Linked DNA regions of Homo sapiens: all the other regions are linked to region 2. Evidence: fine-mapped QTL for protein levels in blood plasma. A gene starts in region 2. Each other region holds a variant in brackets. All regions are shown on one strand. Distances are between the middles of the regions. Region 1 overlaps TNFRSF8 (TNF receptor superfamily member 8). Region 2 holds the start of TNFRSF8 (TNF receptor superfamily member 8). Region 3 has its middle 9.8 kb from the start of MIR6729.

Evidence for each region. PIP is the chance, under the fine-mapping model, that this variant and not a neighbour inherited with it causes the effect. Protein levels are from antibody-based Olink assays in UK Biobank. Linkage for the fine-mapping came from a reference panel and not from the study's own genotypes, which makes the PIPs less certain.
Region 1: its variant is fine-mapped to the plasma level of the TNFRSF8 protein (UK Biobank, PIP above 0.99). The variant lies in the coding sequence of TNFRSF8. If it changes the protein, the assay may bind it differently, which can mimic a change of level.
Region 3: its variant is fine-mapped to the plasma level of the TNFRSF8 protein (UK Biobank, PIP above 0.99).

What each region holds. Positions count from the first base shown.
Region 1 is chr1:12,114,059-12,116,816 of GRCh38, forward strand. It overlaps TNFRSF8 (TNF receptor superfamily member 8), which reads left to right. Exons shown (of 15, transcript NM_001243.5): 8 at 1,519-1,671. Among named protein-coding and RNA genes, the nearest start is that of MIR7846, 52 kb to the right of the region's middle. The variant G/A (reference allele first, on the strand shown) is at 1,543.
Region 2 is chr1:12,062,502-12,065,231 of GRCh38, forward strand. TNFRSF8 (TNF receptor superfamily member 8) reads left to right here and starts at 802. Exons shown (of 15, transcript NM_001243.5): 1 at 802-1,160. The coding sequence starts at 1,098. RefSeq lists silencers at 245-477, 1,065-1,194.
Region 3 is chr1:12,037,622-12,040,379 of GRCh38, forward strand. No RefSeq gene overlaps it. Among named protein-coding and RNA genes, the nearest start is that of MIR6729, 9.8 kb to the left of the region's middle. RefSeq lists a cis regulatory region at 628-1,750 and an enhancer at 1,533-2,032. The variant A/G (reference allele first, on the strand shown) is at 1,667.

The DNA.
Region 1 (2,758 bases), 52 kb after region 2:
TCCTAACTGAAACCCCACGAGGCAGTGGAGTGGTGTATTAGTAGCTAAAGGCATGAGCTCTAGAACCCGAGTGCCGGGTTCAGATCCCGCCTCTCCCACTTGATAGCCTATAACCTCAAGCAGGTTTCCTAACCTCTCTGTGCCTCAGTTTCCTCTGCTGCAAAATGGGCATAGTATTATCTATCTCAGAGAACCATGTGAGAATTGAATACATGATTGTAGGTTAATCTGGGTAGAGTGCTGAGACTACTGTCTCACACATACTCAGTTATCTTAAGAGCTATAATAATAATGATAATAGCTGCCATTGTCCCAAATGGTTTCATTCATTGCTGAGCTCACACACACCCTTTGCACAAATTCCCCAAATCCTGCCCAGTTCCCTTGCTCTGGATGTTGTAAGAAGAGACTGTCCAGCCCTTATCATTATCATGCTGGGTCTCTAAGTATCCTGCTGATTGAGATCTACCCTCGCGGAGAGGTCCCATTTGCCTAATCTACTGATGCAGTCGTTCTGTATTTACCTCTAAGTGGAGCGTTGCAAAATATTCCCGAATACGTACAAATGCATTATTACACTTATTAAAAATAATACCTCTAACATGGTTTTTTTTTGCTTTTGGAGGAAAAAAAATCTTTTTTTTTTTTTTTTTTTTTTTTTTTTTAAATAGACAGAGTCTTGTTCTGTCGCCCAGGCTGGAGTGCAGTGGCACTATCTTGGCTCACTGCAACCTCTGCCTCCCAGGTTCAAGTGATTCTCCTGCCTCAGCCTCCTGAGTAGCTGGGATTACAGGCACGTGCCACCAGGCATGGCTAATTTTTGTATTTTTAGTAGAGACGGGGTTTCACCATGTTGGTCAGGCTGGACTTGAACTCCTGACCTTGTGATCTGCCTGCCTCGGCCTCCCAAAGTGCCGGGATTACAGTCGTGAGCCACCGTGTCTGGCCAAAAAATCTTTTTATTATTAAAAATTTCAAACATATTCAGATGTAGAGTGAGTCAGAGATGGCTGCGTACTATCACCCAGCTTTAAACGGTTATGGAGTCATGGCCAGTCTTGGCTCCTCTGCACCCATGCCCGCTCACCCCGTCCCCTGGAGGACTTTCTTTTAACAGCTTTAGGGAGAGATAGTGGGCATATGGTAAAGTGCATAGATTAAAGGATGCAATCTGATAAGTTTTAACAAATGCATGCAGCTGAGCAACCAGCCATCCCCCTCTAAAAGTTACCTCGGGTTGCTTGTCACCATTTCCCATCCCCTGCTTATGGTCACCATGCAATAGCTTGCATGTAAATGCGACATACAGAATACCCTCGCTTTTTGCCTGCCTTCTTTCACCCTGCAGAATTATTTTGAGCATGCTGGGAGAGCTGCTCAACGGCATAGTCAGACGAGCATTTATTTTCTTGTTGGATGACCCTTGGACAACTGCTTCTCTGTCTTCCTGGGGGCTCTCTGGACCCCCTGCCCTTGCCATACTGATCTTTCTCCGTGATCCTCATCTGTGTCCCTTAGATGACCTTGTGGAGAAGACGCCAT[G/A]TGCATGGAACTCCTCCCGCACCTGCGAATGTCGACCTGGCATGATCTGTGCCACATCAGCCACCAACTCCTGTGCCCGCTGTGTCCCCTACCCAATCTGTGCAGCAGAGACGGTCACCAAGCCCCAGGGTAAGCAGTTCCCACCCCAGGCCTCGACCACAGGGTGGAGTCTGTGCCCCCACTGTTGTGCCTCTCCCCACCAACAGCCAGGGGTGGAGGCAAATGACCTACACCCTCGGCTGTTCATTAGGTCAGGTTTGGGTTCTGGTTATCCTTTGAGTAGTCAGACTCAGTGAATGGAATGATAAAATCCAGTTTTAGCATTTTGGCAAGAGATTCTGTTGATTAAAAAAAAATTCTTCCTGAAATTATTGGGCTGGTAAAATCTTTATATTTTTGAGATGGAGTTTCGCTCATGTTGCCCAGGCTGGAGTACAATGGCTCAATCTCGGCTCACCGCAACCTGCACCTCCTGGGTTCAAGCAATTCTCCTGCCTCAGCCTTCTGAGTAGCTGGGGTTACAAGCATTCGCCACCACAGCCGGCTAATGTTGTATTTTTAGAAGAGATGCGGTTTCTCCATGTTGGTCAGGCTGGTCTCGAACTCCCGACCTCAGGTGATCCACCCACCTTGGCCTCTCAAAGTGCTGGGATTACAGGCCTGAGCCACCATGCCCAGCCCCGGGCTGGTAAAATCTTGACCTGTTTGCAAGGCTGTTTTATTGACTTAGAGAGATGAATATCAAGTTTCTGAAGAGATTTCTAACAGGACGGTTGGCTTTACCAGTGTGCAGGAAACTAAAACCCTGACAGTTTTTTGTTGTTGTTGTTTTTTGTTTTTTAAGGGCTTTGAGAGATTTTAACAAATCTCCAGGTGGTTTAAAACAGATGGAAGAGTGGTGACAAAACCAAGGGGAATGGCCAGGCGTGGTGGCTCACGCCTGTGATCCCAGCACTTTGGGAGGCTGAGGCAGGTGGATCACTTGAGGTCAGGAGTTCAAGACCAGCCTGACCAACATGGCAAAACCCCGTCTCTACTAAAAATACACAAATTAGCTGGGTGTGGTGGTGGGCACCGTAGTCCCAGCTACTCAGGAGGTTGAGGCAGGAGAATCGCTTGAACCCGGGAGGCATAGGTTGCAGTGAGCCGAGATTGCACCACTGAACTCCAGCCTGGGCAACAGGGCGAAACTCTGCCTAAAAAAGAAAAAAAACCA
Region 2 (2,730 bases):
TCCATCCATCCATCCATCCATCCACTTATGCATCCATCCATCCATCCATCCATCCATCCATCCACCTATGCATCCATCCATCCATCCATCTATGCATCCATCCATCCACCCATCCACCCACCCATTTACCCACTCACCTGCTGCTCACCCATCCATCCATCCATCCATCCATCCACTTATGCATCCATCCATCCATCCATCCATCCATCCACTTATGCATCCATCCATCCATCCATCCATCCATCCATCCATCCATCCATCCACCTATGCATCCATCCATCCATCCATCCATCCATCCATCCATCCATCCATCCACTTATGCATCCATCCATCCATCCATCCATCCATCCATCCATCCATCCATCCACCTATGCATCCATCCATCCATCCATCCATCCACCAATTTATCATCCACTCACTGATTCATTTTACAGCAAATGCTTATGAATGGGGATGGGTGGGTGATGGTTGCTTTTTCTGCAGTCTCCCTAGGCCAGTTGTCCCTTCCAAAGAATCTCAAGGGCATGGGAGAAGGTCCTGGCTGATCGTGTCAGGGACAGGAAACTACTCACATTTCACCGTTTCTTGGGGCAGGAGTGGAGGTGGGGGCATTGGAACCCCCTTGGGGCCTCCTAATATCCTGTGAGTCCCCACCTCCAGGGCCAGAAGCTGCCTGCCTCCGCTCCCCGCAGCCCAGGTGCGGCGGGCAGCACACTCCCTAGAGCCAGGACCACTAGTTCCGTCAAATCCGGGGCGGGCCATTCAAACAGCTAAGGGAGGCGTCTCCTAGTGTGCCTTTTCCTGAGTCATCTCTGCACGTGTTTGCCCCCTTTTTTCTTCGCTGCTTGTAGCTAAGTGTTCCTGGAACCAATTTGATACGGGAGAACTAAGGCTGAAACCTCGGAGGAACAACCACTTTTGAAGTGACTTCGCGGCGTGCGTTGGGTGCGGACTAGGTGGCCGCGGCGGGAGTGTGCTGGAGCCTGAAGTCCACGCGCGCGGCTGAGAACCGCCGGGACCGCACGTGGGCGCCGCGCGCTTCCCCCGCTTCCCAGGTGGGCGCCGGCCGCCAGGCCACCTCACGTCCGGCCCCGGGGATGCGCGTCCTCCTCGCCGCGCTGGGACTGCTGTTCCTGGGGGCGCTACGAGCCTTCCCACAGGTAAGCGGGTGACGGGCGCCTGGGGAGGTGCCGGCGGTCCAGAGCCCGGACAGTGTGGGGTGCGTGGGACGCAAGGGAGGACACTCCTCACCCCGTTCCCTGCCCAGCTGGAGTGAGGGGGCGCGGGTGACAAGCAGGAACACCGGAATATGCTAGCACCCACAGGTGGGAGGCTGGCTGAAGGGCTAGTGGTGGGGGGCGCCTCCTTCTCACCCCGCGATGGCTGGGACTGATTCATTCATTCAGTGTGAATTGGACTGAGAGCACTGCCATACGCGGGAGGCGCTCTTTAGCCCGCCTACCTGCGGGCCCGTCGGGGTCCTGGGCAGATCAGGTGAGGCCGTGGGAGTAGTGGGCAGGCCAGATGGGGCCTCCCTTAGCCATGGGAGGTTGGTCGTCCGCGCTCTACCCTGTTGTGTGCGCGGTCCCGTTTGCCCCCTTCCTAAGCTGGCCACTGGCTGGAGGGTCAAGGAAAGGAGGGAGAGTTGGCTGTGGGTGAGAGTGGGGTGAGGGTGCAGGACCACCGGGATTAGCTTCCCCAATCCGCGTCCGGCAAAGCAACGCTGTGGATTGAATTCGCTGGAGCACGTGGTGGGCATTTGCCCCTGGAAGAAGGTCAGTGGTGGGGCTGAAGTCTATGGTGGGTTGCCTCAGAATTGAGTTTGGGGACTGCTTTAGGAAAACTGAGCACTTACCAGTGGCCAGCGCCAAATTAATCACTGTGGGGAGAATGCAAAGTAACCAGGCGTGTTTCACGGAGCCCAGGGGCTGCTGGAGAGAGAGGCCCTCAGCTGACCCAGGACCCCGGTGGACCCCTGCATAGAACCATAGTAGGTGCGAGTGGATGCCTGCTGAATGATACAGAGGGAAAGGAAGGAGCAGGCTGTTAGTCCAGCGGTGGGTCACGGTGGGGGAGAGGGAAGACCCAGTTCCCCTTTAATCCTACAGGAAGAGAGGACTCCATGCTATGGATCAATTCTAGTCATCTGAACCTTAGGCAGTGGGAGGAGAGTGGCAGAGTGGGCTTTAGGCAGGAGGGAGGAACTATGCAGCAAAGGAGGAACTATGCCCTCTTCCATTTCCAATGGGCAATGTGAGGTATTCCCCCTTTCCCCCCAAGAGGGCAGAGGGGACAAAGCCCTGGCTAGAGACACCCTGTCCCAGCTCTGCAAGCCCTCACCTGGGGGAAGGTAAGAGTTTGGAGTGCCAAGGTCTTGGGGAGATGAAGGGAAGGAAGAGATGTGAGAGGTGCTTGGGGGGCTTTGCTGGTTTGGTTTGGCAGCTGAAGCTCATGTGCTTCCTTTCTGTAGAGTGAAGCCCCCTCCACTTTTTTTAATGTTAGAGACAGGGTCTCACTCTGTTGTCCAGGCTGGAGTGCGATCATAACTCACTACAGCCTGAACTCTCATACCAAACCTTTTTTTTTTTTTTTTTTTTTTGAGACTGAGTCTCACTCTTGTTGCCCATGCTGGAGTGCAATGCTCGATCTCGGCTCACTGCAACCTCTGCCTCCCGGATTCAAGTGATTCTCCTGCCTCAGCCTCCCAGGTAGCTGGGATTACAGGCATGT
Region 3 (2,758 bases), 25 kb before region 2:
ATGTGTCAGGTGGTGGGAAGTGCTGGGAAGAAAACCAGAGCAGCCCGACCACGCTTCCCTGACCCACGTCTCACACCTCCCACACCCCTCCCAGGCGAGGCTCCAGCTCTGCTGAAGCTTTTTTCTGGGTCTTAAACCGGCAGGCTCCCCCTGGCCTCTGGGTCTTTATCTACTCCATTGCCTCTGCCCAAAGCTCTCTTCCACCCAATGAACTCCTACTCAGTCCTCAGCTTCTATTTCAATTCCTCAGAGCCCTTCCCTGAGCCGACCGAACTGGCCAAGGCTCCTGGAGTTGGGTTCTGCAGCATCCCCATTGTAGACTTTGTGACACTTGACTGTAAGCTCCTTGAGAGCAGGAACCAAGCCTGTCCTGTCCTTGGCGCTATCCCCAGGGCCTAGTACAGCATGCGGCATATGATAGACGTTCAATAAATAAATGTTGAATGAACGAGGGAGTAAATGAGCTCCCAGGTCTTGGGAAGGTAGACCTGGCAGCCCTGAGACCCGAGGTTCCTGTTTCCTGGGATTCTAGCACTGGGGCTGAGCTGCTGCTGTTCTAGCTTGCGCTGGTTTCTGCACATCTGTTGCCCTAGGCCTCAGGCAGATTGTGGGGTCTCGGCTCAGCACCAGTCTCCCAGGGGAGTCTAGGACCCTAGGGTGGATGGTAGGGAGCGGCTGGGGACAGCTGAAACATCTTCATCTGGGAAACTCTACGTCCGCCATCCATTGGCAGCTGCAGGGCCCAGTCCCTTGGCGTGCAGATGGAAGTGTATGGAAATAACCCCACCTTCCCTCCCTCAGGCCACTTTTAACCTCCCAGGCAAGACAAGGACCTGTTGGCTACTGATTGCCACCCTCTGAGAGGGAGGCTGCAAAGGGGAATTCTCCCTGGAGGGGTTGGGTGACCCTTCCACTCCCACTTCATCATGAGGTGAAGCGTGCATGGCCCAGAAACACACACACAGCTGGATTTCCCCCCTCTGCCTTTGGAAAGTGGCATTCAGATGTTCTGAGAATGCACACTGGCTCAATGTAGACTTGGCTGTAGGTTTGCTGAACTTTTCAGCCCAATCTGTGGGAGGACATAGAGTGTAGCTCCGAACACCCGCCCTCGGTATTGCCACCCACTGACTGCGTGACGGCGGCCGTGTCACTTAGCCTTTCTGTATGTAGCTCAGTTTTGTCATCTGTACACGGGCGATAACTCCAAGAAGAGGTGAACCAGATCCGACCTGCAGAGACCCGGGCACGTGGTCTGACGGGGAGGGGAGCTATGAGAAATGATAAGACTGTCATCAGCTCTTCCATCATAAGATTGATGCCATCCTGTTGCCTGGAATGGAACCTGCCCCCTGAGTTTGCTCCAGCTCATGCCTTCCCCAGGACGATAAGAGAGAATGGAAGCAGGGCATGGAGTCCTTTGATCCAGTGGCCTTCACCCCCAGCTCCTGGAAGGGCTGTTGCTGGGAGCAGATGCCGGCAGCAGCCTTCTTGCCAGTTTCATTAGCATGGAGGCTCTGAGGACAGGGAGGGAGGAGGGATGTGGGTGGGCAGGACCCTCCCTGGGGCCAGTGCTGAGGCTGTGAGGGTGGATGGCTGAAGCCTTGCAGGAAGTTTTGAGAGGAAGCTGGGCCCACAGGATCGTGATGTGATCAGTTGGGGTGGC[A/G]TAAGAGTGCCTGATGATGGTTTGGGTGGCCTTTGGGGACATCCCCTGTCATGCCATCACCATGCTGAGCTCTGACCACACTCTCTTTGGCCCTCTTTATCTGTGGCTAAGAGTTGGCAACACAGCCTCTGAAACTCAGCAGAAACCCCTCTGCTTCCCCCAGCCCTGCCTCCTCTATCCCCCACCATTGTTGATGGGATACCAGAGGCACCCAGGTGTCCTGGGCCTCCAGCTCCCGAGGCAAGGAAGCCTTTCTTGGCCAGCCAGGACTCATGACATCTCAGCCAGTGGAGAAGGGGAGAGGGAGGGCTTTGAGAATTCCCCAGGCCTCAGATTTGGTGGGGGAACCCTTCCTGTCCACCAGGATTGAGGGTTACAGAACACCCCAGCCTCGAGGGAGAACTAGCTGCCCCCCATCCCATTCCCAGCAAATTCTGACAAACACCCCCTGACTCCCATGGTGGAAGTTTGCCAGGTGTCAACTAAAGAAAATAAAAAGCTGAAGAATTAGAGTTCGGGCTGGGTGTGGTAGCTCACACTTGTAATCCCAGTAATTTGGGAGGCTGAAGCCAGTGGATTGCCCGAGCCCAGGAGTTTAAGAGCAGCCTGGGCAACATGTAGAGATGAAACCCCATCTCTACTGAAAATACAAAAAATTAGCCAGGCATGGTGACATACATCTGTGGTTCCCAGCTACTTGGTAGGCTGAGGTGGGAGGATCACCTGAGCCCGGGGAAGTCTGAGACTGCAGTGCGTGGTGATCACAACACTGCACTCCAGCCTGAGCAACAGAGTGAGACCATGTCTAAAAATAAATAAATAAATAAAAATGCCGGGCGTGGTGGCTCAAGCCTGTAATCCCAGCACTTTGGGAGGCCAAGGTGGGCAGATCACTTGAGGTCAGGAGTTCGAGACCAGTCTGACCAACATTGAGAAACCCAGTCTCTACTAAAAATACAAAATTAGCCGGGCGTGGTGGCACATGCCTGTAATGTCAGCTACTCGGGAGGCTGCGGGAGGAGAATCGCTTGAACCCGGGAGGCAGAGGTTGCAGTGAGCTGAGATCACACCATTGCATTCCAGCCTGGGCAA